Regions from separate parts of the Homo sapiens genome. Here regions 1 and 3 are each linked to region 2. The links come from fine-mapping of genetic effects on gene expression. A gene starts in region 2. Each other region holds a variant in brackets. All regions are shown on one strand. Distances are from middle to middle. Region 1 overlaps CDH4 (cadherin 4). Region 2 holds the start of CABLES2 (Cdk5 and Abl enzyme substrate 2). Region 3 holds the start of LOC105372708 (a long non-coding RNA gene).

Region 1 (8,169 bases), 600 kb before region 2:
AAGCCCCGAAGACCAGACCGCACTCCCTCGAGTGCACACACGGTGCTTCTGGGAAGCTGCCCGGCCGCCAGGGGGGCAGAGCTCCTCGCCCCATGACCGGGCAGGGGCAGTTCTGCGTAGCCGACTCTTTGCCCCCTCCTTGGGCACTCCCTTTAGACTACGCCAAGAGTCCCATGCCCGCCGCAGGGCTGACCCAGCTTCAGGGCCACTGTCACTGCAACCATTTGCTGCACTCTTACCTTATGGCTCCACGGGGGATGGTGCTTCTCCCACCACTATCCTTGTGAATCTCCTCATCGCCCCCCACAGAAAGGAAATGGAGCCCAGAGAGGGTAAAACACCTGCCCAAAGACACACAGCCAAGACAGGGCAGAGCGGGGCTGCAGTGTGAGCCCTTCAGCTCCAGGACCACTGCCTGCCCTTAGGACCTGACAACCTTAAGTCCCCAGGATATGGGCAGGGGGCTCACAGGAAGTGCTGGCAGTGCCCGGCTCAAGGCAGAGCCTCAGGCAGGCCGAGAGCACAGATGGCCTCTTGGACACACCCCAAGGGGCCGGGGCTGGGAGACAGATGGGCTGGAACTCCCTGCCTTCCCTTGCCTGATAACAGGCCCACTGGGGACCCTGGGGCGTGTAACCTCTGGCACTCCACATCCTTAGAGCCCACCAGTGAGAATGGCCAGTGTCCACTCCACAGTGGCCTCGGGCCCATCTGCGCCACACATAGGGTAGGCCTGGGCATGGCTGCAGGGCCCTCCTGGGACCCTCCAAGCATCTTGGTTGGGGGCAGCTACGAGGGGCACTGATTGTCCCCTTCTCATCTGTCAGTTTGGGCACTGCAACCCCAGGCTTGGTTTTCGGTGGGGGCTTGAGAAACCCACCTTCTGCAGTGACATTAGTCCTCAAGACGCCACAGCACCGGGGCTCCTGCCTCCCGTTGGGAGGTGTTGAGGGCTTGGGGACAAAAGGCATGGACAGCAGCACCTCTCAGTGTCTGCAGGCTGCAGCGGGAGAGCCGGCAGAAAGCAGGGTGGTCCCCCGACACCTAGACATTGGGGGAGTGGGGTCAGGCAGCCTCTGGGCAGGGCCAGGGTGTCCAGCCGCATCAGCCAAGCGTCTCTCTAGGGTTGAGGGCATCAACCACAAACACTGGTGTGTGTGGTTAAAGCCATGGACCCTCAGAGTTCTGAGACGTCATCCCGAAGCCACCTGTCCTCTTCTTTGTGTCTCTGAAGTGCCGAAGTAGGTGTTCCTTCAGTGGTCACTCCCTGTCTGTGTGAGTTGCCGGGAGCTGCTGTCACAAATCACCACAAACCAGGTGGCAGAGAACAGCCCCGTGTAGCCCCACATGGTGCTGGAGGTCAGAGTCAGAGGTTAGTTTCTGTGGGTCAAAGTCAAGGGTCAGCAGGGCCATGCTCCCACTGGAGGCCCTAGGGGAGGACCCATCTCCTGCCCTTTCCCGTTTCTAGAGGCTCCTGCCCCACCTCTGTGGCTCCTGGCCCCTTGCTCTGTCTTCAAGGGCAGCAGCACAGCCTCCTCCAGCCTCTCTCTGCTTTCTTTCCACATCACCTTCTCCTCTGTAGTCAAAGCTCCCTCTCCTGCCCTCCATAAGGACCCTTCACATGGCCTTGAGGGGCCCCTGGGAAATCCAGGATGGGCCTCATCTCAAGATCCTTCACTCCATCACGTCTGCAAACTCTCTTTTGCCATGGAAGGTGGCATTCACTGGTCCCAGGATGAGAACCCAGATGTCTCTGGCAGCCGGATTCAGCCAGCCTTGCTGCCATAAGAGAATGCCATGGAGTTCCCAGACCTGTAAGTGGCGCAAGAGCGGGCCTCAATCAGGTCTGGTCTCTGCCCCTTTGTCCGGCAATGTCCTCAAGCCCTCCCCACCTTTCTCTTATAAACGAGGATGCCAAAGACAGCTGCATTCACAGAGCACCTCCTTGGAGCCAGGCCCAGGCAGACCCCTCCTCGGCTTCATTCAGCCCCTGTGGCAGCCCCAGAAAGGGCGCTACACACCCTGATCATGCTCTGTTCCCAGCAGAGACAACAGTCTCAGAGAGGTCAGGATTCTCACTCAAGGTCACACAGCTCAAAGTACAGAACTGGGCTTTGAACCCCAAAAGTCAGACTAAAGAGCCCACCCTGCAGCCACCCTGCTGTGTGTAGCCGAGAACCTCGTGGGGGTCAGTTGTGCCTGAGAAAGTATGTGAGGAAACTGAAGCTCCCCCAAAATCGTGGGGGTGGCCCCATCGTCCCTGTTTTCACTGTCTCTGAGTTAGTTGTAAAGAAAGGAATTTCTCTGCAGAGCATCGCTTTGAAGGAAAACTTACTTGGGGAAAAAAAAAACAACTGTCTCCGTTGGGAGCAATTTCCAAACGGGAGTCCACGCGTGGGTTTTTCGCTTGCTGCTTCAAGCAAATCAGCCATTTTCACTGCAGAATGGCTGCAAAGGAAATGGAGAAAAGGCAGAGCGCAGCCCTGGGAGCTGCCTCCCAGCCTGGGGGCCGGGCAGGGGGAAACAGGTGCCACCTGGGCCTAGACGGGGCGATGCCTGGGAGGAGAGGCTGGAGGAACCGGGCCTTCCCACCACGGGGCCCTGTCTGTGGCCACCGCCGTCCACAGAGGCTTCACAGGTGCATGCAGCGTTCCTCCCCGTCCTCCTGGCTGCTGCCTTTTGCGGGATAGTCGCAGGCTGGCTCTCGCTGGAGGGGCTTCTCCGAATTCTGTTTATCCTGGGTCTGGCTCTCTCCAACATGGCAGCTGGGGAGGCAGAGGAGGCGGCGTGTCTACCTTGTCACTGCCGGGGCCTGATTTACCAACAGGTCTGGACAGCGCTCCCCTCCTTCCCACGCCCCCACTGCTAATTGCCTGCCTGTAGAGCGGCCAGCCCTGTCTCAGCAGCGCGGCGAGTCGCAGCTCCGTCGTTGACGGTGTGTCCGCGATGTGCTGTGGGGTCCCGTCGTGGCGGCTGTGGACGGGCTGAGGTCTTCCTCTGGATGCTCTCAGAGTGGCAGGGAGCAGCCTGGGTACTCTCCACGCTCGGCACAATCCGCCCGGGCTGGCAGTTAGAGAAGCCAGGCAGAGAAGTGCGGCCAGAGAGGCTGTCCAACCCAATTTCCCCGGGCTGGGTTATTTGAAAGTCTAAAACTCCCTAATACCAAGAGACGGGCGGTATTTAAATTTAAGTCTGGCTCCCAAATGAAATCTTTTCGTTCAACTGTTCAACTTTATTTGGAAATATGAAATGGTAACTTGATTACATGTTAAGGTAGCTTTGGTCGGGGGATTAGAGCCGAAATCTCTGCCCCTCTGAGTTCATCCTCCAGCGAATGGAATCCATCCAAATTAGGAATCAGTTCTGCTACCGCGGGCGAGCCGCAGGCCTGGTGGCCTGGAGGGTGGGGCATCTTGAGGCTGCGGGATTCCAGTTACTCTGCATGGCCAGGATAAGGGGGCGCCCAGAGCTCTGCGTTCCCCAAGGGAGGTTGGAAGGAAACGTTCAACTGTGTGCTTCCCAGAGCCCTAGCAAATCACTCGATGTTTATAAACTGTCAGTGAAAGTCATTTGTAAGAAAAGCTCCATTTCCAGTGGCTCTGCAGCTTAGAAAACTCAAAACTGAAAAACACACGCCACCCAGGAAGGACAGGAGAAACGAGAACAGGCTCCATCGCTGCAGAGCGTGAGGCCGGCCCCCGCTGCGTCTGCTTCCAGGAGGCGGTGCCGAGACGGCGGAGGTAATGGAAGCAGAAACGAGTGAAACTTTTTTGTTGTGTTTAGCAAGTATCTCTTGTCAAGGAAGTTGCCAAACTCACAAATGTTCTTGCCAAGAGAGAGGCGCCTGCTCTCCACACGAGCTTGTTGTTGGTAAGGAGGCACGACAGAAAACGTGTCAAGCTGGGACCCGGAGCAGGTGGTGGAAACAGCAGTTTGCAGGATGTCGGTCCTGCCTGCATGGCGGCCTGAGAGCCGCCCGAACTGCTGTGCTGAGGACGGGGCTGGAGATTCGCCCTCAGGTGAGGGGCTGGCCTCTGCAGGTTCTGTTTTGTCTCTGAGGCATCACCAGACGGGTGTCACCAGCCACATGGTGCAGGTGAGGAGACAGAGGACCGAGGCGGGTAGAAGTGACAGGAGAGGCAAAGAGCTGTCCCCTGCACAGCCACTGTCCATGCTGTCTGACC[A/G]CCCCTCTCCGCCGTCCAGCCTCTGCATCTGGCCTCGGCCTCACCCACTGCTGGCCACCAGTCACCTGGAGGTCAGCCACACCCGGGGGGCAGCTCTGCTGTCTGGACCTCTGAGCCACACCGAAAGCACTCAGTCCCCCTTCCTCCTGAAGCCTCCAGGTCCTGCCCTCTCCTTACCATATGGGTTCCCCTCTGAGCATCCCTCCTGTCTCCTCTGTGGACCTGCCCAGCTCTCGCCTGGTGGGTGTGTCAGGTTTCTGCTGCCTCAGTGTGGGGATCCTCCAGGGGAGGGAGTGGCCGTAGCCTCAGAAGTGCAGGGAAAGTCCAGAGGGGAGTCCCCGTGTGGAGGCATCACCATCTAAGTACGAAACCAGAAGAAGAGATGGCTCAGAGGTCTGGAGTAGAACAGTCAGGACTCATCTGTTGCAAGGGGCAGAAGCCAACTCTAAAAGGCAGAGGCCAGTGAAAAGTGCAAGATTTATGGGGCACATAAACGGAACATACAGAGCTGTCAGCTTCAGGCCCGGCAGGATCTAGGCGCTCAGACAATGCCAGAGTCAGCAGGCGCTTTCCCCTCATCCCGCAGACCTGCCGTCTTTGACATTAGCCCCGGTCTCCACAGAAGCCCCAGCGCCAGGCCAAGAGTGCATCCCAGTAACTCCAAGTTCGTGGAAAGAGAGGTCCTTTCCTTCTTGTCATTCCAGCAAACATCTTGGGAGTGACTCATTGGCTTTGATGGGCTCATATGCCCAGCCGGAAGCCGGTACGGTGCTGAGAAGACTCTAGGCTCTGCTTGGCCAGTCCTTGACCCAGCCCCCCATCCCTACCCAAGCTACTAGAACAGAGAGGAGCAGAGAAGAACAGCTCCCTAAGGATCCCTGGGGTGCTGTCCCCAGAAGAGGGGAGAGTGGACAGTGGACAGTGAGCAAGCAAAACAAACAGGCATCTGCTGAGAAGTGGCCAGGATGGCCTCTGTGTTGGCAGATGGAGGTGGGCAGCATGGCTGGGTGTCCCACAGAGCCACACCCGAGCCCCATAACCATAAAGGCCAGCAAGGGTCAGGGCCACCTTTCCGGCCAGGCACAACCTTTCCGGGATCCAGAGGGTACACTCCCCTGCCCGGCCTCAGACACTCGCCCTCCTGCGAGGAAACACAGGCTCCTGTGTGCAGCACAGAGAGGGCAGCCTGCCCGGGGGTCTCGGACCCACCCCAGGTCAGAATCACCTGGGGAGCATTCGACTGCCTGATGCCACCCAACCTACCGCATGGCAGAGGTATGTTTAAAACTCCCACGAGGCCAGGGCAGTGTATTGGGAGATGCTCAAGCTCATTGATCATCCGTGGAAAACAAACTCAGGGAGGGGCCCTCTCACACCGGCCATCACCCCAAGATCATCCAGCCCTGTGGTGGGTGCATGAGTTGTCACAGCCAGAGCTCCACAAAGCAGATTTAATTTAGAAAGAGCCAAAATATGGGATCTTCATTGCCCGGCAGTTGCCAGCTATGTAGGTATATGCTCAGGAGAGACCCACCATCACTCACTCGGTGTCCACTGTGGTGCTGTGGAAAGCTACGCAGGCCCGCTGGGAGGTGGGTGCTTGGGGCAAGGGGAAGGCAGGAAACCTCGCCTGGGGGCTCCTTCCGCTCTGTGGCACCCAGTACTGAAAGCATTGTGGTTCGGGGCACATTTAGAATGGCTGCAGGATGTCATTCTGGAAGGAATTCCACATGTGTGTCTGTTCTAGGCAACAGCCTATTCTGTAGGACAGTGCGGCAGTGACCTCTTAGTAGCCAAAAGGACCCTTGCGTCTTCCCAGATGTCAGAGCCAGGCGTCGTGGCCTGCCTGCCTGACTGGTTGGGGGTGGAGTGTTCTTGTCACCACTGGAGAGATGAGGAGGGGGGCGTCCACAGGGCTAAGGAAGCCTACCCAAAGCCTCATGCCCAGGACAAGGAGACCAGGCACCACCACCTCCCACGGGGTTAGGAACACACGGGGAGGACCGTCCACTCGCCTGCAGGAGGGCACCAGAAACACAGTTTGTGCGGCCGTGCACACCCAGGGTGAGGAGGTGCCCTGTTAAAAGGGAGTGGGGAGGCAATTCCATACCCAAGTGAGCATCTGAGGAACACGTGTGCACACACATGTCCACGCGCACGCACACACATGTCCACGCGCACGCACACACACATGCAGTACCATCGGAGCAGGTGGAGGGTGGGGGCTGTAGCAGAGGCCGGACTGGAATTGCTCAGGGGCTGCTGGAGGAGCTGCCTCACCTTTCCCTTGGGGCTGTTTAATTCTGCGGGGGAAGTGAGGACACAGGAGGAAACCTTGGTCCCTGCCACGGCTGCTGTGAGCAGACATCAGGGACATGTTCATCAACATGCATGTTTTGCCACACACATGTGCACACCGTCTCTGTGAGTGGGAAGTGTCAGCATCTGGGGGTGGTGTTTTGTGCCTGTTCCTGTCTCCTGCTGGGGAGGGGTGGCCACAGGGCCTGGAGGACCTGGGTAAGAGCCGCTGCACTCCAGGTTTTCCCGTAATGCACGGTACAGAGATGGGGGCTTCTCCAAATCACAGCTACACTTTGACAGGGGATCTTTTTTTAACTACTACAAAGCCCTCTAATAATGGGTTGCTAAGAAACTGACACAGGAGATGATTTTGAAAATGTCTCGCTCATCCCCTGATCTATGAGCTCCCAGGGCCCCGCAGCCCCGCCAGCCCCCAGCTGCAAGGCCAGTGGGGCAGGTGCCGGGAGGGCCTCGGGAGGTGCCTGGTGGGTCCTGCCAGACAGAGGAGTGGCCTGTGGGAGAACTGCCCTGGGGAAGGAAGTCAGTGATGTTGTAGAGACTGGGTGTTGTCCAGTCCATGGAGCTGTATTCAGAACCACCAGGGCCAGACCCAGCCTTGCTGTGGCCCCGCTGGGGTCTTTGGATCTCAGGAGAGTGGGCGGTGGGAGAGGATTCCCTGAGCTGTAGAGTTTACCCTCAGCTTCTCGTAACAGGGTGTCTGGGTACCTAAATGTCGGAATTTGAGGCTATTCAAGTTCAATGTGTTGGATTTGGAAATCTCCCTCCTCTTTCTACTCCATCTCCTCCCGGCTGGGAAGTTGCAGCCCTTTCTCCCCGTCAAGGTGCAGCTGTGTCCACCATCAGCGAGGGGAGTGTGACCAAGGGCAGGTGTTCCGTGCAGGGCTGGTTGGTGTGAGGCCAGCCACAGAGTGGTGGCCAAATAGCATTCGGGGAGGTAAACAGAAGATTGTGAGAACAGCTGGGGAACTGTGGACGGCTCTTCAGACTCAAACGGTGTGATGAACAAACCGACTCGGAAAATGCCTGGCGCCAGTAGGAGGCCCAGCTAGCTGGGAGTTCTGAAATATAGGAAGGGAAGTGATAGGACGTCTCTGCACACAGCACATATCCATGCAGGATGGTCAGTACTGTCGCTTTCGTTAGGTTAGAGGCCGTCCACTGGGCAGCAGGCTGTGGGCCTGGCGGGATGCAGGCACAGCGCGATCCAGCACAGTGCTGGGTGGTCTGGGTGCCGCCTCAGGGCAAGCTGCCATAGCAGCGATGAGCCCACACACGTCTCCAGCCCTGACAATGAACCAGTAATCCAGCTCCTGGGAATCCCGGCACAAGGGAGCTGAGACCAGCAAGTGTGGTCAGCATGCCCCTGCCACACAGAAGCAGCATGGAAATAAATCCTCCTTAGCTGAGCACTGGGCCCCCACAGCCTGGGGAAGGCTGCGGGGGCCCAGAACCGTGGCTCTGGCAGGAACAGAGCTGCAAGCCCCACCCCAGCCCTGGGTTCAAAATCACCCCGTCTCAGCCAGTCACTGAGGAATCCTCACTTCCAGAACCCCACTTTGATTTCAAACCTAAGGGATACAATCTGTTTTCTTGGACTTGTTTCAAATGTAGCAACACCAGCTGCAAAAATAAATAAATAAATAAATAAATAAATTTAAAAAAA
Region 2 (8,169 bases):
TGTGTGCCTATAGTTCCAGCTACTGGGAGGCTGAGACAGGATAACTCGAGCCCAGGAGGTAGAGGCTGCAGTGAGCTGTGATTGCGCCACTGCACTCCTGCCTGGGAGACAGAGAGAGACCCTGTCTCAAAAAAAAAGAGGCTCTGCTCATCTCACACTGACTCCTGCCACATACCTCACCAAGCCCTGGGCACGCATCTGACCTCTGACCTCAGGGAGGCCATGCTTAGTGCTTAGTGTGAACCCGCTTCTCAGAGGAGATTGAGGCTCAGAGAGGCCATGTCACCTGCTCAAGGTCACAGAGGTACTGAACAGTGCAGCTGGGATTCCAAGCCAAGTCTGTTCCCAGAGCCCAGGTCAAACCACCACACTCACAAGACCAACATCAGGGCTGCCTTCAGGACTTTCAGAATTCTCTCCATTTCCTGAAACCAACTCATCCTAGAACTCTCAAGCCAGGAGCTAGCAGCCCCTTTTGCCGGGGCAGCCACCCTTCCCTCGATCAGCAGCCAGGCCCAGGGAACGCAGGGTGAAATGGACGTCCTCACGCTGGGGTCTACCTATCAGGGAGGGGCCATGGCCCTCAGAAACAAGGTCAGCACCACGAACTTGGCAGCAGAGCCCCAGGAGGGACGCCTCCCCCTCCAGGAACAGAGTGGGGTTCAGGAAAGACCTGAACAGGGACATGGGGGCCAAGGAGGAGGGAAGGGAGGAGACAGCCCTGGGCAAGGCAAGGGGTGGTGGCGCTTGGGCCCATGGTGGGTACGGCAGGAGGACTGCAGGCACCCAGCCCATGCCACGTCCCATCCTGTCCCAGGGATGCCGGCCACAGCGCACCTTCTAACAATCCCACAGGGCAGGGATGTGCTGCACGTGGGCAGCATGCTGCGCTCAGAACTGTCACCATGGAGGCTCTGGGCCTGCAGGGGGTGCCTTCTCAGTCACAGGCACTTCCCTGCGCGTCGCCACGCTCTGCCTCCCTCCACTCAAGTGGGCTCCACTCCACGCCAGGCCTGGTGCACACAGGGGTGCATGAACTCTGTGGAAGGAGGGCCTATGACAGCACCCAGTCTGCCTGGTGTCACCATCCGGTTCTGGACACTCAACATGCAGGACTGAGGGAGAAAGCTGTTTCCATGTCAAACAACAGGGCCCGGGGTTAGGGAAAAGCCCACCACACCTGCGGAGCTCGGCCCGTTGGGGTGAGCCCGCTTCCCCTGGAGTCCACACCTTAGGGCCTTGCCGCTCTGCCCTGGAGAGTCACCACCTTGTTCCATCTCTCCCGCCTTCCTGAAGGAGCTGGCCATGCCAAATGCATGGGGCCTGGCTGCCACATTTGGGCAAATCCATCCCTCTGCCCCAATCATCCCTCTGACCCTCCCTGGAGCAGCGGCCAGGCATGTCCGTGGGGGGACATCTTGTGGACAGGCCTGGGTCTGCAGGCACCCTCAGCCTGGCTACGGCCAGGAACACTTCCAAGGATGGAGTGCACCGCGACCTGCGTGTGACGCAACCTGCATGTGACGTCATAGTCTTTGAGGACAGAGTGCTGTGTTCTGGGCCCAAACTTCCCCAACCAAAGACCTTAGAGGAACCCAATGCCTCCACCTGCCCGAAGGCCAGGGGCGTGGGGCAACTCTGATGACCTCCAGGTAAGCAAGGAGCACGTGCCAGCCTTGACCCAAGAGCTCTGTGTCGGCCCCTTTGCTGCACACCTGCAGGGGCTGCCTCTGGGAACAGCCGCCCAGCAGGCACTTGGACCTGTGGACAGTGGCTCCCTTTGAGAAGGAACCGCAACAAGCAGCCAGTCCTGGGCCCAGAGCCCACAGTCACTCCTGGAGGTGAGGGCTGTGGGAGGCAGGGTCACCCAGGTCCTGTGGTCTCTGGGAGAAGGACACAGGGTGTCGGGCAGCCAGGGGCCATCTGGGCAGGGGGCACACGCTGGACAGGCAGGGCTCATGGTTGGGGTTGCCCTGGGATGGGCTGAGGTGGTTCCCAGAAATGGAATCAAGGCAGGGGGAGCAGTGGAGACCCAGGGTGTGACAGACCCAAAGATACCGAGCTGAGAGTGATGTGGGGAAGGGCGGGGCTCAGCAGGGAAGTGACAGGGAGAGGAGGGGTGCCAGAGACCAGTGGCTGTGGGATGGGAGATGTGGCTGTGCAGGGGCCTCTGGGAACAGGTGTCAGTGACAGTGCCAGGAGGACCCCGGCCCACATGCTGGGTCTGAGGAGGTGGGCATGGACGGTGTGGCCCGGTTCAAAGAATGCGAAGAGATGCACAGGGCTGTCCATGTGTCCCTGTGTCCCGGGCACTGGTACCAGTGGATGGGGGTGGGGGCATGTCCAGAACCCACAGGGCTGGGGGTCTCAGGGGTAATAAGGGCTGAACCCTAAAACCCATTTCAGAGCACTGACAACGTGGAGATCCAGACCCCGTATTCAGGGGCTGGGAGAATTCAGGGGACAATGAACCCTATGTGTGGGGGGTGACAGGGCCTGAGGAAACCCTCAGCCAGCCCAGGAACCCCCAGTTCTGTATCCAGGACTGACAAGGTCCCAGGTGAACCCAACCCCTGTGTCCTGGGCTGATGAGGGCCCAGACTGACCCTGACCCCTGTGTCCTGGGTTGACAGGGGCTCAGGTCACCTGAACCTCTGTCCAGGGCTGACAAGGCCCCAGGTGAACCCAACCCCTTTGTCCTGGCCTCTGTCCAGGGCTGACAAGGCCCCAGGTCACCTGACCCCCTTGTCCTGGGCTGATGAGGCCCCAAGTAATCCTGACCCCTAGTCCTGGGCTGATCCGGCCCCCGTCCCCGTCCCTGTACCCCGCGTCCTGGGCTGACCTGGCCGGGCCCCCACTCACCTCTGGCGCTGCCCATCCAGGCCGAGGCCGGTGGGCACCTGCGTGGGGCTGAGCAGGCCCTGGGGCGCGGGGGTCCTGGCGGGCAGCCCGGTGGGGGGCTCCGGCGGCGGCGGCGCTGGCGGTTCGCGGGCCTCGGCGGGCGGCGGCGGGGGCTTCTCTCCGCCCGGGCCCAGGCTCGGGGGCCGCCCGTCCAGGGAGATGTTGTTGAGGAAGAAAAGCGCGGCCTGGCGGCGCCGCGAGTCCCCGCGCCTCCGCAGCGCCTGCGGCGGGGCCCGAGCGGCCGAGGTCGGCGCGGCGGGTGGCGGGGGCCCGGCGGGGCCGGGGGCCGGGCCCGGGGCTCCACCGGCCGCGGCCGCGGCCATCCTCAGACTGCGCCCGCCGCCGCGAAGCGCCCCACCCCCTGCCCGCGCGCCCGCGCGCCCGCCGCCCATTGGCCGCGGCGCGCCCACATGCAAATGTATCGCCGTCGCGCTCTCCCATTGGCCAGCGAGGTGCCGCGCTCAGGGCGCTCCCCTGGGTCCTAGAGGCGGTCGGACGCAGCAGCAGGGAGTCGGGAGCTGCGCGCCTCCCCGCCGGTTCGAGTCCCCGTCTTGGGACCTGCGGCCGCGGGGCTCTCGCTTTCTGTTCCCTTTGCTGTATGGCGGCCTTCGCGGATGGCCTCCATCGAGCGCACATTTTAAGGCTCCGGACCCAGGGCGGCGTGGGTGAGGCCCCAGCACACTTCCCTGTCCGGAGGTGTGTCTGGGCGGCGCTTCAGCGGGCGCAGGGCGGCCCCTGGAGGAGCCCCACCGCTTCCCGGAAGGGCCCGCGTGCCATCTGGCCTCCTTCATTGACAGAAGGGAACGAGGGTCTGAGTGGAGAAGGCACCTGCTTGGGATCAAAGCCCCAGGCAGAGTCCTGCACTTCCTGCAGTAGCAAAGTGACCTTGAGCCTGCCTTGTGCCCAGGCCTGTTTCCTCTCTGTGCCTGGGTGCCCCTGACTTCAGAACCTGTGAGCCCGTGGCACCGGGATGGTCAGGGCCTGCCTCTGGAGCCCGGGAGCCTGTCTGCAGTCTGGAGGGGAACCCGCTGTATCTTTGTGGAGGGACTCAGGACCTTGCACCCACCTCTGTGTCACCTGCCTGCTCTGTCCAGCTTTCTTTCATGGGTTTACGTATCTTTAAAGAGGGGACAATGATTTCAGCCTCAGGGTACTGTCAGGATGAAACTGGCTCAGTGAGGGGGTCGGGCTGTGGCCGGAGGCCAGGCACATGCAGTGGTCAGTCCGCGAATGCGCTGCAGTACCTCGCACCTGCCCGCATGCGCCCAGCCTCTCCTGTGCTGGGTGCTGGGGACCCGGTGGGACCGACAGGCACAGCGCTGGCCCTAGGAGCACCTGGTGTGTGGGGAGGCAGCATGATGGCCAACAAGGCAGTGGGCGAGTGGGCAAGACAGGGTCTTCATCACCACCCCTAGCATGGGCCCCTGCCCTTCAGGCCCCTACCCACCTCCCGCCTGCCTGCTCCCTCCTGTGGGCCTTCACGGGCCACCATTGGGGCTCACGCAGCATGCAGCACCTCCATTTCCTTTCCCTCCGCCCTTCCAAGTTGGCCTCCAAGGCCTCTGCCAGGCCTAGGGGAAGGTGGGCAGCTGTCCTGTCTAGGAGAACGCGGGGCTGGGTGGCATAGCAGAGGGGTGGCTGCGGATTCTGGATCCACAGAATGGGGTGCTGACTTGTGTGCCTGGGGGCTCCCGTGAGCGGGGAGTGAGTGTGTCCAGCGCTGTAGGGTGCTGAGGCTGGGGCAGGCACACAGTGGGCCCTCCATCCCTGCTGGCTATCACCAGGAGGAGGGGCCTGACAGGGGAGGGTGGGCCATACACCAGCAGCTTGCAGAGAATCTGGTGTCAGATGAGAACAGAAAGGGGCGAGTGAGGGTGGAGGGCAGGACGCAGGAGGCAGGAGGCAGCTGTCCGTGCTGGCTGCAGCGCCGGGTCCTGGGGATCGGCTGTGCAGTAGGGGGGCCCCTAGCCAGTTCTTCTTTGCTGGCGCTAAGCTAGACTTTGAGGGACAAGGAGGAATGCTGAGGAAGGAACGGGGTCTCTTCCTGGGTCTGGTGAACCCCCTTGCTAGGCTCCCGCTGCCAGTCTTCTCCCCTCCCCAGGGTGTCGATGGGTGGCCAAAAGCCAACCTGGCCTGCGGGCAGTGTGTAGGGAACACACGGCTTTTGTTTCGTGTGATTCTGGAGAAATTAAAGCAACCTTTAACACACCTGGACTTCCCTCTTGGGAGTTCAGTCCCTCTGGCCTCTCAGGACAACAGGCAGACATGTCACAGGCTGCAGGTGGGAGGCAGTGCCCCCTGAGTCAGGCCCGCACCCCAGTCTGGCCCAGGCCTCACCCAGCCCAGTCGTTGGCCCGTGTCCTGCCATCCCTGTGATGCGTGGTTTTAAATGCCCAGCTCACCTTGGTGCTTTGGCTGCAGAGGGCCCTGCTCATGAGTTTCGCTCCTTATTTTCTTTGGCTCTCACCCTGAACTCTGAGCAGGTGTCAAGCGCAGGGCTCTGTCTGGATGCTCCTGACTGCAGGCCTGGCCCTTGGGCTGACTTCTTAGTTTCCCCCTTGCCCTGGCACCCCTCCGTGGCCCCCACCTTTCCTTTCTGCCTGATCCTTGTCCATTTTTCTAGAGTTGGGGTCTCAGCAAACTTCCCAGAACATCCTAGCTCCTTGCCTACTTGGCACACTCCTGTTCATCCCTCAGAACCCAAATTTGGGTTGCAGGTGCCACCTGCCTTGACCTCCCAGGGACACCTGCTCTCCTCCCCGTCCCCCAACACTGGCCATGACTTGGTGCCATTGCTCCTTTGCCCACCGCTCCCTGATGCCCAGCAGAGGTGTCAGTGCCCAGTGTCTCTGCCCTGTAAGGGGCAGTTCTCAGACTTCACATTTAGGAGAATTACCTCTGGGAGCTTCTTAAAACACAGACTCCAGGCTCACCTCTAAAGTCCTGGTTCAGTGGATCCGGGGTTGGGCCCAAGAATCTATTTCTTAAGCTCCTCCCACGAAGCTGGGAGGGACTGATACTCATCCTCCCCCGAGGAGCAGACAGCCTTGAGTGCTCCCGGTGGAGTCCTGGCGAGCTGCCCTGTGGCTGCCAGGCCAGGGACTAGTGAGGAGGGGCAGGTGCACACGGCCGCCGCTGTGGCCAGGCACTTCCCCGAGGGTGCCCTGGTCCCTTCCCGCTGCAGACTCTGCAGAGGAGCTGGTTTTATTCTGCCCTCCCGCAAGGGGGTGACCTCCAGTCCCTGGCACAGTCAGTGGTGTCCTGGGGCCCTGCCAGACACATGCACGGTTCTTCAAGTGTTTATTCTCCGTCACTCAGGGGACCCGGTCTTCGAGGGTGCTGCCGCCCACTGTCTCCCTCCACCCTCACTGCCAGACATCTGTTTGCTGTCAGCCCACGAGGGGGCGTCCAAGATTGTGCTTGGAGCTTGGCGGGCAGGGGTGGGGGTCCGAGTGGTCCGTTGCCTCCCAGAGCGTGGGCACTGCCTGGGAACGGCTGCAGTGCACAGCAGGGGTAGGGCTGGGCTGGAGCCTGAGTGATCCCGCCTCCAGTCCCCACACCCCTCAGGGAGCAGGTGCTGGGCTGTGGGAGGGGCCGCAGAGCATTTCCCAGGTGGGTGGAGACGGGGTGAATCGCCAGCCTGAGACCCCTCTCGGTCCTCCAGCCCCTCTTGAAGTGGGCCAGGATGTGCCCGTCACCGGCTCTTCGGGGTTGCCTGCTGGTTGGGTGGTGTGCCCTCTCCAGGCTGTGGTGAGCAGGCAGAGAGCTGCCCTGGGCTCACTGTGGGTTCAGCTGAGGCTGGCTAGGTCTTCTCCCAGGGTTCTGTGCAGGGCTGCCTGCTGGTTGGATGGTGTGCCCTCTCCAGGCCCTGGTGGGCAGGTGGAGGGCTGCCCCGGGCTCGCTGTGGACCCTGGTGCAGGCTGGCTAGGTCTCCTCCCAGGGGCTGCTGTTGGGGGAGGGACTGTGGTCCTCGGCGTCCCTTGGGCTCCCGGGCCCCTCAGTGGCTGTCAGTTTCCTTCTCCCTCTGGATGGCTTTTTGGAGGCTATGGGAAGTGGCCGGAGGTCAGGCCGGAGCTGTGTGCCTTCCTTTGAGGCAACACTGGCTCTCACCTAGGGCCTCCTGGGTCTCCTCTGGGCACGGGGAGCTGGGTGCTTGGGGAAGTTTGCTGGCCACCCTTGTTCCTACAGAAACCGGTGCCCAGAGCAGGGGTAGCCCGATCTGAGGGTGAACCCTGAGAATTGGGTGGAGGGTGGACACTCTCCCCATTGTGTGACCCCGAACACGGCACTGACCCCAGTGGCCCCCTTCCTGCCTTGGAGGGAGCCAGGCCATACTGGCTGGCCTGACACTGGCTGCGGGCCTCAGCAGGCCTGCCCCCGGGCTAGGGCCACATGGGAGGGGCGCCTGGTTCCTGCGATGGTCCGGGGACGGGGATCCTGCCGAGATGCTGGGCTTAGGCCATCTCTGAGGCACAGCAAGCTCAGGCTCTGAGTTGAATGGGTCAGGTTTGAATCCTGACACAAGTCCCAGACCTGTGACCTTGGGCAAGTGACCTCTCCCCTCTCAGCCTCAATTTCTGCACCAGCCAAACAGTGATGATCCTACCTGCTGGGCAGGGTCATAAGGCTCACAGGCAGCCACAGCTGCACCCACTCTTCTGGGGCACTAGGCACGAGGATGCTGGCTCTGGCGCTGAGCTGTGCTCATGCTGGGCAGGGACCTGCTCTCACTGATCGCCACAGCAGTTTCTCAGGAGCCCCTGCCAGCGTCCCTGGTCCCGGCTCAGGTAGGAGCACAAGGGTGTGCTGGCTCACAGACTGCACCCCCCGGGGCCATTTCCACCCACTCAGCAGGAAGTGCCTCAAATAAGGGCCGTGCTGGTCTCTACTGCCGCTCCGGGCAGACGCAGGCCATGGCCACCTGCCGGCAACAATGGCACACAGTGGCGGCACCACCCCGCCTGCTGCCTGCGGGCCTTGCCCGGAGAAAAACCAGGGCCATACAATTAGGTGTTCAAAGTCTCTCATGGGCTCCTGGACCCCAGCTGGAGCTGCCATTGAGCCCAGAGCAGGAAGTGAAAAGTTGTCCCGATACCCTCGGACCAGGGCCGAGGCTCCTGCCGGCATTACTGGGAGGAGCTGGGTCCAAGGACACTGCCCTTGGCAAACACTGGAGCCGTCCGCAATTCCCCAGGGGAGCAAACGTGCCCCCATGCCCCTCGGGGCTGTGCCTTCTGCGCTGACCCTGTCTGCAGGTGGACAAGGGGC
Region 3 (8,169 bases), 30 kb before region 2:
CCCGTCACCTTCCCACTGCCCCGGGACCCACATCCTCCCACACCAGGCGTGGCAGGCAAGGGCCCAGTGCCCAGACTCCAGCCTCTTTTTATGCCCGCCTGAGGCCCACACCGTGATCCTCACTCTATAGCCACCAACAGAATCAGGAAATAAGACAATAACAACTACAGGCAGGATCCTGCGGGGACCAGTGTGGTGTCCAGTGTGGGAGCTGCTAGGACACCAGCTGGTGGTTCCTCAAAGGACTGAACACAGTTGCACACGGCCCAGCAGCTCCACACCTGGTAGCTGCAGAGAGAAGCGTAAACACGTCTCTGCACAGACACTCGTGGGTAAACACGCACGGCAGCGCCAGGCACCAGAGCCATCAGGCAGAAACAGCCCGAACGGCCATCCAGGGTCGACTGGGGAGAGAAACGTGGTCCATCCACACAGTAGACATCAGTGGACAGGAGCGGCACTCTGTACAGGCAGGCTCTTGGAGGGGCTGCCCAGGGACCAGGGACCGGAGGCCTGGGATGTGCCATGGCCACTGGCCCCTCGCCAGTGTGGAGGGGGAGAGGGAGGAGCACGTGGATGCTGAGTGAGCCTGCAGAGCCAGTTCAGGCGGGCAGGTGCCTGGGAGTCTTCAGGTGGAGGTCAGTAGAAGCAGGGTACTTCTTGGTGCTTATGGGCCACCCACACAGCCTGCCAACACCAGCTGGACCTGTGCTCATGCACAGAGAGGTGGGGGCCTGTGTTTAGGGCCATCACATACCCAGGACACCCAGCCCTACACACTGACTCAGCCTGGGGCGGGAGAGACAGCCCCGCAGCTGCCTCTGTCTTCAGCCCGGTCTGCCAGGAGCCTGAGTTACTAGGCAGGTCCAGGGCCTGACCCCCGTCCCCTAGGGTCTTCATTGATTCAAACCGCCAAGCAACACCTCAGCCACCTCCACCTATTGCCAGCCCAGTTTCACGAAAGGAAGGCTGAAAGGTGGGAGGATGGCAGTGCCACTGAATCCCCTGGGCTGGCTGCCCCAGCTCCGGCAGGAAGATGCCCCAGCTGGGCCCCCATGTGCCTGTCCCCTGCCAGGAGGGGGAGGGGGAGGGGGTGGGCCAGGTGAGGAGGTAACCCCAGGATCCCACTGGGCCCCCGATGTGTGGAGGGGCAAAGTGTGGGTGGGCCCACTCCAGGCCTCTGTTTGCCACAAGTTCCAACATTAAGAAAATATTTGCAGCTCTTCTGGGGAGCTATTTCCTGGGGGAATGTAAACACACGGAGACTTGGAAGGCTCCCGCTGACCACAGATGGTGCTGGGGTCCACTGGGGGCCCACGTTTCCTCTCGCAAGGGATCTGGACCACCCCCGGCAGCCAGGTCAGGGGTCTGTGCGTGGCCTCCCATGGGGCTCTCTCTCAGAACCCGGGAGTGGCAGTGGGGATGGCGTGCAAGAGAGCAGCTGCCACGGAGCCTCCTGGCGGCCAGGGTAGGGCCTGTCGGCCCAGTTGCCCACTGCCTGCTCCTGGCTCCACAAAGGGCTTGCTGGGCAGCTTCAGGTCAGAGGCGCAGCCCCCACCTCCAGCCCCCTGAACATGTGGGGGTTGTGTTTTCTTGACCTGGGCCCCCCCGTGCCTCCCTCCCACCTCTGTGCAGGAGAGCCAGGCAGCCCGTGCAGCCGACATCAGGCCGGGCGCGGAGCTGGCTCCCATCTCCTGCGAGGGACCTGCTCTTGTTTTTTTTTGTTTTTTGAGATGGAGTTTTGCTCGTCGCCCAGGCTGGAGTGCAGTGGCGCGATCTCGGCTCACTGTAACCTCTGCATCTCGGGTTCAAGCGATTCTCCTGCCTCAGCTTCCTGAGTAGCTGGGATTACAGGTGCTCGCCACCACGCCCAGCTAATTTTTGTATTTTTAGTAGAGACAAGGTTTCACTATGTTGGCCAGGCTGGTCTCGAATTCCTGACCTCAAGTGATCCACAGGCCTCATCCTCTCAAAGTGCTGGGATTACAGGTGTGAGCCACCGCCTGGCCCCCTTGTTATCTGTATTTTACAGATGGGGAGGCTTGGTTGCAGGTGAAGTGTGGCCATGTCCTGCCAGCCCCCCGGAGCTGGTGAATCCCTGCCTTATCTGCAAGTGGCTTCTCCCCACACAGAAAGGCGAAAGGCGACCTCCGCCTGAGTGTTCCAGCAAAGGCCGACTGGCTCAGCTCCAATATGCTGAGCTCGGCAGAGCCTGGACAGGGCTCCCCAGGCCCCGCAGGAGGCTGGCGCAGGCCGCAGGCTGGCCTCCCTATCTCCACCAGGAATGCACTGAGCCCCTGCACCCCTGCCCACCCAGGTGGAGGAATGTGGCAGGGGCTGCTGGGAACTCGGAGCCTGGAGGAGGGCTTTTGAGGCCTCTGCCTCCTGGAATTCCCCAGGCCTGGCACCAGGCGGCTGCTCCCTCAGGATCCGCCTGCCTCGGCCTGCCCCCAGGCGGCCGTGCTCTCAGATTCTCCTCTTCCCAGGCTGTGGGGACCTGCAGAGGAACCGGGCCATCTCAATTCCGCTCACTCTGTGAAAGTCCCCTGCTCAGAGAGGCCTTCCCTGGCCACCCTGCCCCTGGAGCCCCTTCATCCGGGCCATGGCCCTTCAGAGCCCCTCAACAGGCGCTGGTCAGACAGTCTGGCTGGACACTGACCTGAGGTGGGGCCGCTTGGCCCCCACTCCCAAGAGGCCAGAAGCACTTGCCCTCCAGTCGTGACAACCAAAAATATCTTCTGAGTAGCCCCATGTCCCGGGGCTGAATCTCCCCGGTGAGACTCACAGCCCTACACCCTCCTGGGATGCCAGTTGTCCCGTCCTAGGCTGCGAGCTCCCTGGGCACAGGGCTGTCTGTTCCACGCACCAAGGAGCGCCTGTACCCAGCACGGGGCTTGGAAATGGCGGGTGGACATGACGGGTGTTCTGTGCTCTACGGTTCCCGGCTTCTGATTTGCAATTGTTCGGTAGAAACCGTACTTCCAGTGCCCACACAACCAATCTGTTTTTCTCCTTCTTATAGCATTGGACAAATTACGTGAGGCATTTGATGCATTATTATAAAGGAGGCTTCGTGGGGGATGACTTCGCCCAGCTGTAGGCTAATGGAAGTGTGCTGAGTGTGTATAAGGCAAGAAGGCTCAGCTGTGATGTTCCGTGGGTTAAGTGTATTAGAGCATTTCAGCTGTCGGTATTTCTAACCTACCACGGGTTTATCAGGACGTGGCCTCACGGAGGGTCGAGGAGCACCTGTGTTTGTGGAGTGAATGAATGAAATGAATCAATACTGGTTCTCATGTAGCCTTGTCATGCAGGCCTGGAGCTCAGATGGTTCCTGGCTCCTGGTGCAGGCTCCTGGGGACAGCAGTCAGGCAGGGGCTGCCCTGTGTCCTGGCCGGATGGTTGGGGAGCTGGTGGGCCTGGCCCATTCCTTGCCCAGTCTTGGCTCAGTGCCTCCCTGGCTGGGAGCCTGGGAGAGTCTTAGGGCTTCAAGTGCTGAGCAGGGACAATGGTGCCTCCCTGCTGGGTGGCCGTGAGGCCCCCTGAGGGGAGTGGGCAAAAGCACCCCGAGGCAGGGGCCCCAGGAAGCGCTGAGAGGTGGTGGCGCTGTGGGAGGGAGGTGGGGGCCGCGGCTCTGCCTGACTCCCAGGCCGGGTGCCAGGTTCTTGGCAGGAACCCTCCTGGGCCCTGCCAGTTGCTGGGCGCCTCCCACCAGCATGGCCGGTTGAGAGGTCTGCATGGCACGCAGTGGCCGGCCCGGGGGTGCAACCCCATCCCCTCTCTGGGGTCCCTTTGCAGGGCAGCCTTAGGATCCATTCACTGTGGCCCCAGGGCCCAGGGCGACCTGTGACCCTGCGGAGCCACCTGCAGGAGTCCCAGCAGATGAGGGCCTCTGGCTGCCCCTCAGGGGCTTGTTGGGTCCCACAAGAACTTCCAGGGCCTCGGAGCTCCAGCCGGGCCACAGAGCTGGGAACCTTGAGTGGCTGGGAACCCTGAGGAGCTGGGAGAGCCAGGCTGAGCAAGACAAGCCTGGGCGACTCACCTGGGGCAGGAATGTGGATTCCATCACTCCGCAGAGGCTTTCA[A/G]GCAAAACACAGCCTCGTCTCTGGGCCTGTTTCTGCCGTGCGGGCACGTCCAGCCCGACGCTCTCAGAAGCAGCTGGGATGGGCTCGGGGAGGTGGGGGTGGAGCAGGAGTCCCAGCCGCCTTCCTCTGGGGCCCATCCCAGGCTCCCGGCTGGGCGCCAGCAGGGCTCCAGAAATGAGGGGGCCTCACACCGTTGCCTCTGGACGTGCCGTGCCCGAAATCCCGCCATTCCCACTGGGCATGCCGGGCCCTCGAATCCTCCATGACTCCAGGGAAGCGACTCCGTCCCGCTTGGCCTCAGTCACTGCTCTGTCAATGGGATGATAACTGCCCTTCCCGCAGGCTGCCATGGGGTCTCTGCGTGGCCCCAGCAGGTGCCAGGCTGCTGGTCAGGACCCCTCGTGGGCCTCCCAGGAGGTGGCTCCTCTCAGGTCACAGTTCACAGGTGGAAGGATGGAGCCTGCTGATGATGGCTCTCCAGGCCCTGCTGTCCTGCCCTGGCACTGGGGAACTTGTTCCATGGAGCCCTGCATCCGGCCGGCCACTCCCTTCCCATGCCTGCTTGCTGGCTTAGACATTCTGCACATTTCCCAGAGGGCAGGAGGAGCTAGGCCCCGAGAGCCAGTCCCAGGCCCCTTCCTGGACACATAGGCAGACAGAGGTGGCTAATTTTCTTTTTCTTTTCTTTTCTTTTTTTTTTTTTGAGACGAGTCTCACTCTGTCGCCCAGGCTGGAGTGCAGTGGTGCGATCTCCACTCACTGCAAGCTCCGCCTCCTGGGTTCCCACCATTCTCCTGCCTCAGCCTCCCGAGTAGCTGGGACTACAGGCGCTCACCACCACGCCCGGCTAATTTTTTGTATTTTTAGTAGAGACGGGGTTTCACAATGTTAGCCAGGATGCTCTTGATCTCCTGACCTCGTGATCCGCCCCCGTCAGCCTCCCAAAGTGCTGGGACTACAGGCGTGAGCCACCGCGCCCGGCTAATTTTTTGTATTTTTAGTAGAGACGGGGTTTCACCGTGTTAGCCAGGATGGTCTCGATCTCCTGACCTCATGATCTGCCCCCGTTGGCCTCCCAAAGTGCTGGGATGACAGGCGTGAGCTACCGCGCCCAGCCAGAGGTGGCCCATTTTCAGTAGGAAAACAGCAGCAAAAGTAAAAGTTAGTTTTTCTCTGTGTCTGCAGGTGCACCCCGTGTGGACGCGACACTGCCTTTGCATAGTGCACCCCTCACGGTGTCCCTGGCAGTCCCTTTCCCTGTGGATCCTCCCCTCCACCCACGGTGAAGGAGGAACGGTCCTGCCTCCAAATGGGAAAACTGAGGCTCAGGGAGGAGAAGGGCCGGGTGTGTGTGGAGGTGGCACCAGAAACAGGCCTGATTCCCAGGTCTCTGCCTTAATTACGGTGCTGCCCTGGCTCCGGAATGCTGGGGCCTGGGGTCAGAAGTTGGCCTGGAGGCCGGGTGCGGTGGCTCACGCCTGTAATCCCAGCACTTTGGGAGGCCGAGGTGGGCGGACCACCTGAGGTCGGGAGTTCGAGACCAGCCTGACCAACATGGAGAAACCCCATCTCTACTAAAAAAAAAAAAAATACAAAATTAGCCAGGCGTGGTGGCACATGCCTGTAATCCCAGCTACTAGGGAGGCTGAGGCAGAAGAATCGCTTGAACCCGGGAGGCGGAGGTTGCGGTGAGCCAAGATCGCGCCATTGCTCTCCAGCCTGGGCAACAAGAGCAAAACTCCAGCTAAAAAAAAAAAAAAAAAAAAATTGGCTAGGCATGGTGGCGGGTGCCTGTAGTCCCAGCTACTCGAGAGGCTGAGACAGGAGAATGATGTGAACCAGGGAGGTGGAGCTTGCAGTGAGCCGAGATCACGCCACTGCACTCCAGCCTGGGGGACAGAGCGAGACTTCGTCTTAAAAAAAAAAAAGCCGGGTGTGGTGGCTTATGCGTGGTGGCTCATGCCTGTGATCCTGGCACTTTGGGAGGCCGAGGCGGGCGGATCACGAGGTCAGGAGATCGAGACCATCCTGGCTAACATGGTGAAACTCTGTCACTACTAAAAATACAAAAAATTAGCTGGGCGTGGTGGCGGGCACCTGTAGTCCCAGGTACTTGGGAGGCTGAGGCAGGAGAATGACGTGAACCAGGGAGGCGGAGCTTGCAGTGAGCTGAGATCGTGCCACTGCACTCCAGCCTGGGGGACAGAGCGAGACTCTGTCTCAAAAAAAAAAGAAGTTGGCCTGGAGCCGAGACTGGGGATCCGTCTATGCTGGGGTCAGAGGTCAGCTTGGGCCCAGGTCAGGATACAGGCCCACAGGTCCCGGGTGGGGACAGACCCCAGTCTCTGCCCCAGGTGGGCCTGGTCCTGGAGGCAGAGTGGGCCTTGCTTCTGGTCTCCCCTTCAGCTTCCTTTCTTTGAACCAGTTTGGCTGAGCTGGCCTGGCGCCTGGCCAGCGTGGGAGCCCTTGGTGTGTCCACTGGGATGGAAGTGCCTCTTTTCCTGTCATTTGGCTCAGATTTCAGCCAGCCCCCAGGAGGTGTGGGGAGAGGACTTCTCCGGGTCTCCCTGCTGGGTCAGCCTGTACTCCAGGGAGACTCACGGTGGGACCCAGTACCCAGTGCCCAGGCCCGGCCAGCCCAGCCCCTCTGCCTGTCTTCACCATGTCCTGGAAAGGGGCATGAGGAGCCTCTGGGGAGGGGGGTGGGGAAGGTACCCTGGACCCCCAGGCTCTGACCCAGTGCCTGCCGTGACCACAGGGGTGGGACCTTCAGGATCTGGGCACTTTCTCATAGGTAGGTTCTCCCTCAATGTAAAAATTCTAAAGTCTCATCAAGTAAAATAAATTCAAAAAACAAAATAGTAAAGTGAGTTAAAGTAAAACTGAATGGCACGAAATGGAAAGATGCGCTGGCCCAACACTCCCAGGGTCCCTGTGACAAATGCCGTGACAGTCTCCAGGGCTCCCGGGCAGCTGGGCCTCCCCCTCACGTTGGTGACCTCACTTAAGCCTCTGCAAACCTGGGGCGGGGCTGTTACTGCCTCTGTCTCTCCAAGACGAGAGGATGTCGAGTCATGGCTTAGGAGGCAGTGCCCCAGGAATCCCCTGACAGCTCATGGCCAGGTCCGTGTTCTCCCCACACCCCATAAGTCCCACTCTGAGGCTGGCTATCGTAGCCTTCACCCAAGAGCGGGTTCTATCTGGGGCAGGAGTGGGGGCTGGTGGCTGTAGCTCAGTGTCGGGCTCGCTGCAGGAGAAGGCCCATCCCACGGCCCTGACCTGCCACTCACCCGGACACCCACCTCCCTGGCCTGGAAGGAGGATTTCCTTGTTCTGGGCTTGTTCCCTTCTACACACAATGCATTTGGGGCTGGCCTGGGCCCTGCTTGGCCCAGAAACAGCTGCTCTGGGAAGGAGGAGGGAGGCTCTTCTCCCAGCCCGCACCACAGCATGTCTGAGAACATGTTTACCTGCCTGTGAGGTGAGCCTGAAGGAGGGGCTGGAGAGCAGAGCCAGGGCTGTTGTGCACAGATACCTGCCCAGGCATCCTGAATAGGGGCCCGTGTGAGATTGGGGTGGCTATAGTGTGGCCTCCTGAGTCAACAGCCCCAAATCCAGACCTAGTCTTGTGATCTTGGGCATAATAACGATGACAATGATGGTGGTGACGATGGTGGTTATGATGATGATGGTGACAATGACAATGTTGATAATGGTGATGATGGTGATGATGGTGACAGTGTGTTGGTGGTGATGGTGGTTGTGATGGTGACGATGATGGTGGATATGACGGTGATAGTGAAGATGATGGTGAAGATGATGATGATGGTGATGACAATGGTGGTGACGATGATACTGACAGTGATGATGGTGATAGACAATCATGACAATAATGATAGTGATGATGATGGTGGTGATGATAGTGGTGATGGTGATGATGGTGGTGGTGATGATAGTGATAGTGATGGCGATGGTGGTGATGGTGACAATGATGGTAGTAGCAATGATGATGGTGATGATGGTGAGTGTTAGTATGCTGGGTGCCACACCTTTTTCTGAGCACTGGACAGGCATTGGTTTGTTG

The links. PIP is the estimated chance that this variant, and not a neighbour inherited with it, causes the effect.
Region 1: its variant is fine-mapped to the expression of CABLES2 in iPS cells (iPSCORE, PIP 0.95).
Region 3: its variant is fine-mapped to the expression of CABLES2 in unexposed skin (GTEx, PIP 0.99).

Annotation. Positions count from the first base shown.
Region 1 is chr20:61,800,210-61,808,378 of GRCh38, forward strand. The region is part of intron 4 of CDH4 (cadherin 4); the gene reads left to right. Among named protein-coding and RNA genes, the nearest start is that of CDH4-AS1, 49 kb to the left of the region's middle. RefSeq lists enhancers at 2,391-2,911, 2,912-3,432. The variant A/G (reference allele first, on the strand shown) is at 4,185.
Region 2 is chr20:62,404,053-62,412,221 of GRCh38, forward strand. It overlaps CABLES2 (Cdk5 and Abl enzyme substrate 2), which reads right to left and starts at 3,233. Exons shown (of 10, transcript NM_031215.3): 1 at 2,863-3,233. The coding sequence starts at 3,224. It overlaps RBBP8NL (RBBP8 N-terminal like), which reads right to left. Exons shown (of 14, transcript NM_080833.3): 14 at 6,185-6,944. The coding sequence ends at 6,826. It overlaps LOC105372709 (a long non-coding RNA gene), which reads right to left and starts at 2,842. Exons shown (of 2, transcript XR_936967.3): 1 at 838-2,842. RefSeq lists a silencer at 3,150-3,399 and an enhancer at 6,632-6,691.
Region 3 is chr20:62,374,238-62,382,406 of GRCh38, forward strand. LOC105372708 (a long non-coding RNA gene) reads right to left here and starts at 4,590. Exons shown (of 2, transcript XR_936966.4): 1 at 4,043-4,590; 2 at 1-3,249. RefSeq lists enhancers at 158-761, 762-1,363, 3,772-4,373, 7,047-7,727. The variant A/G (reference allele first, on the strand shown) is at 4,086.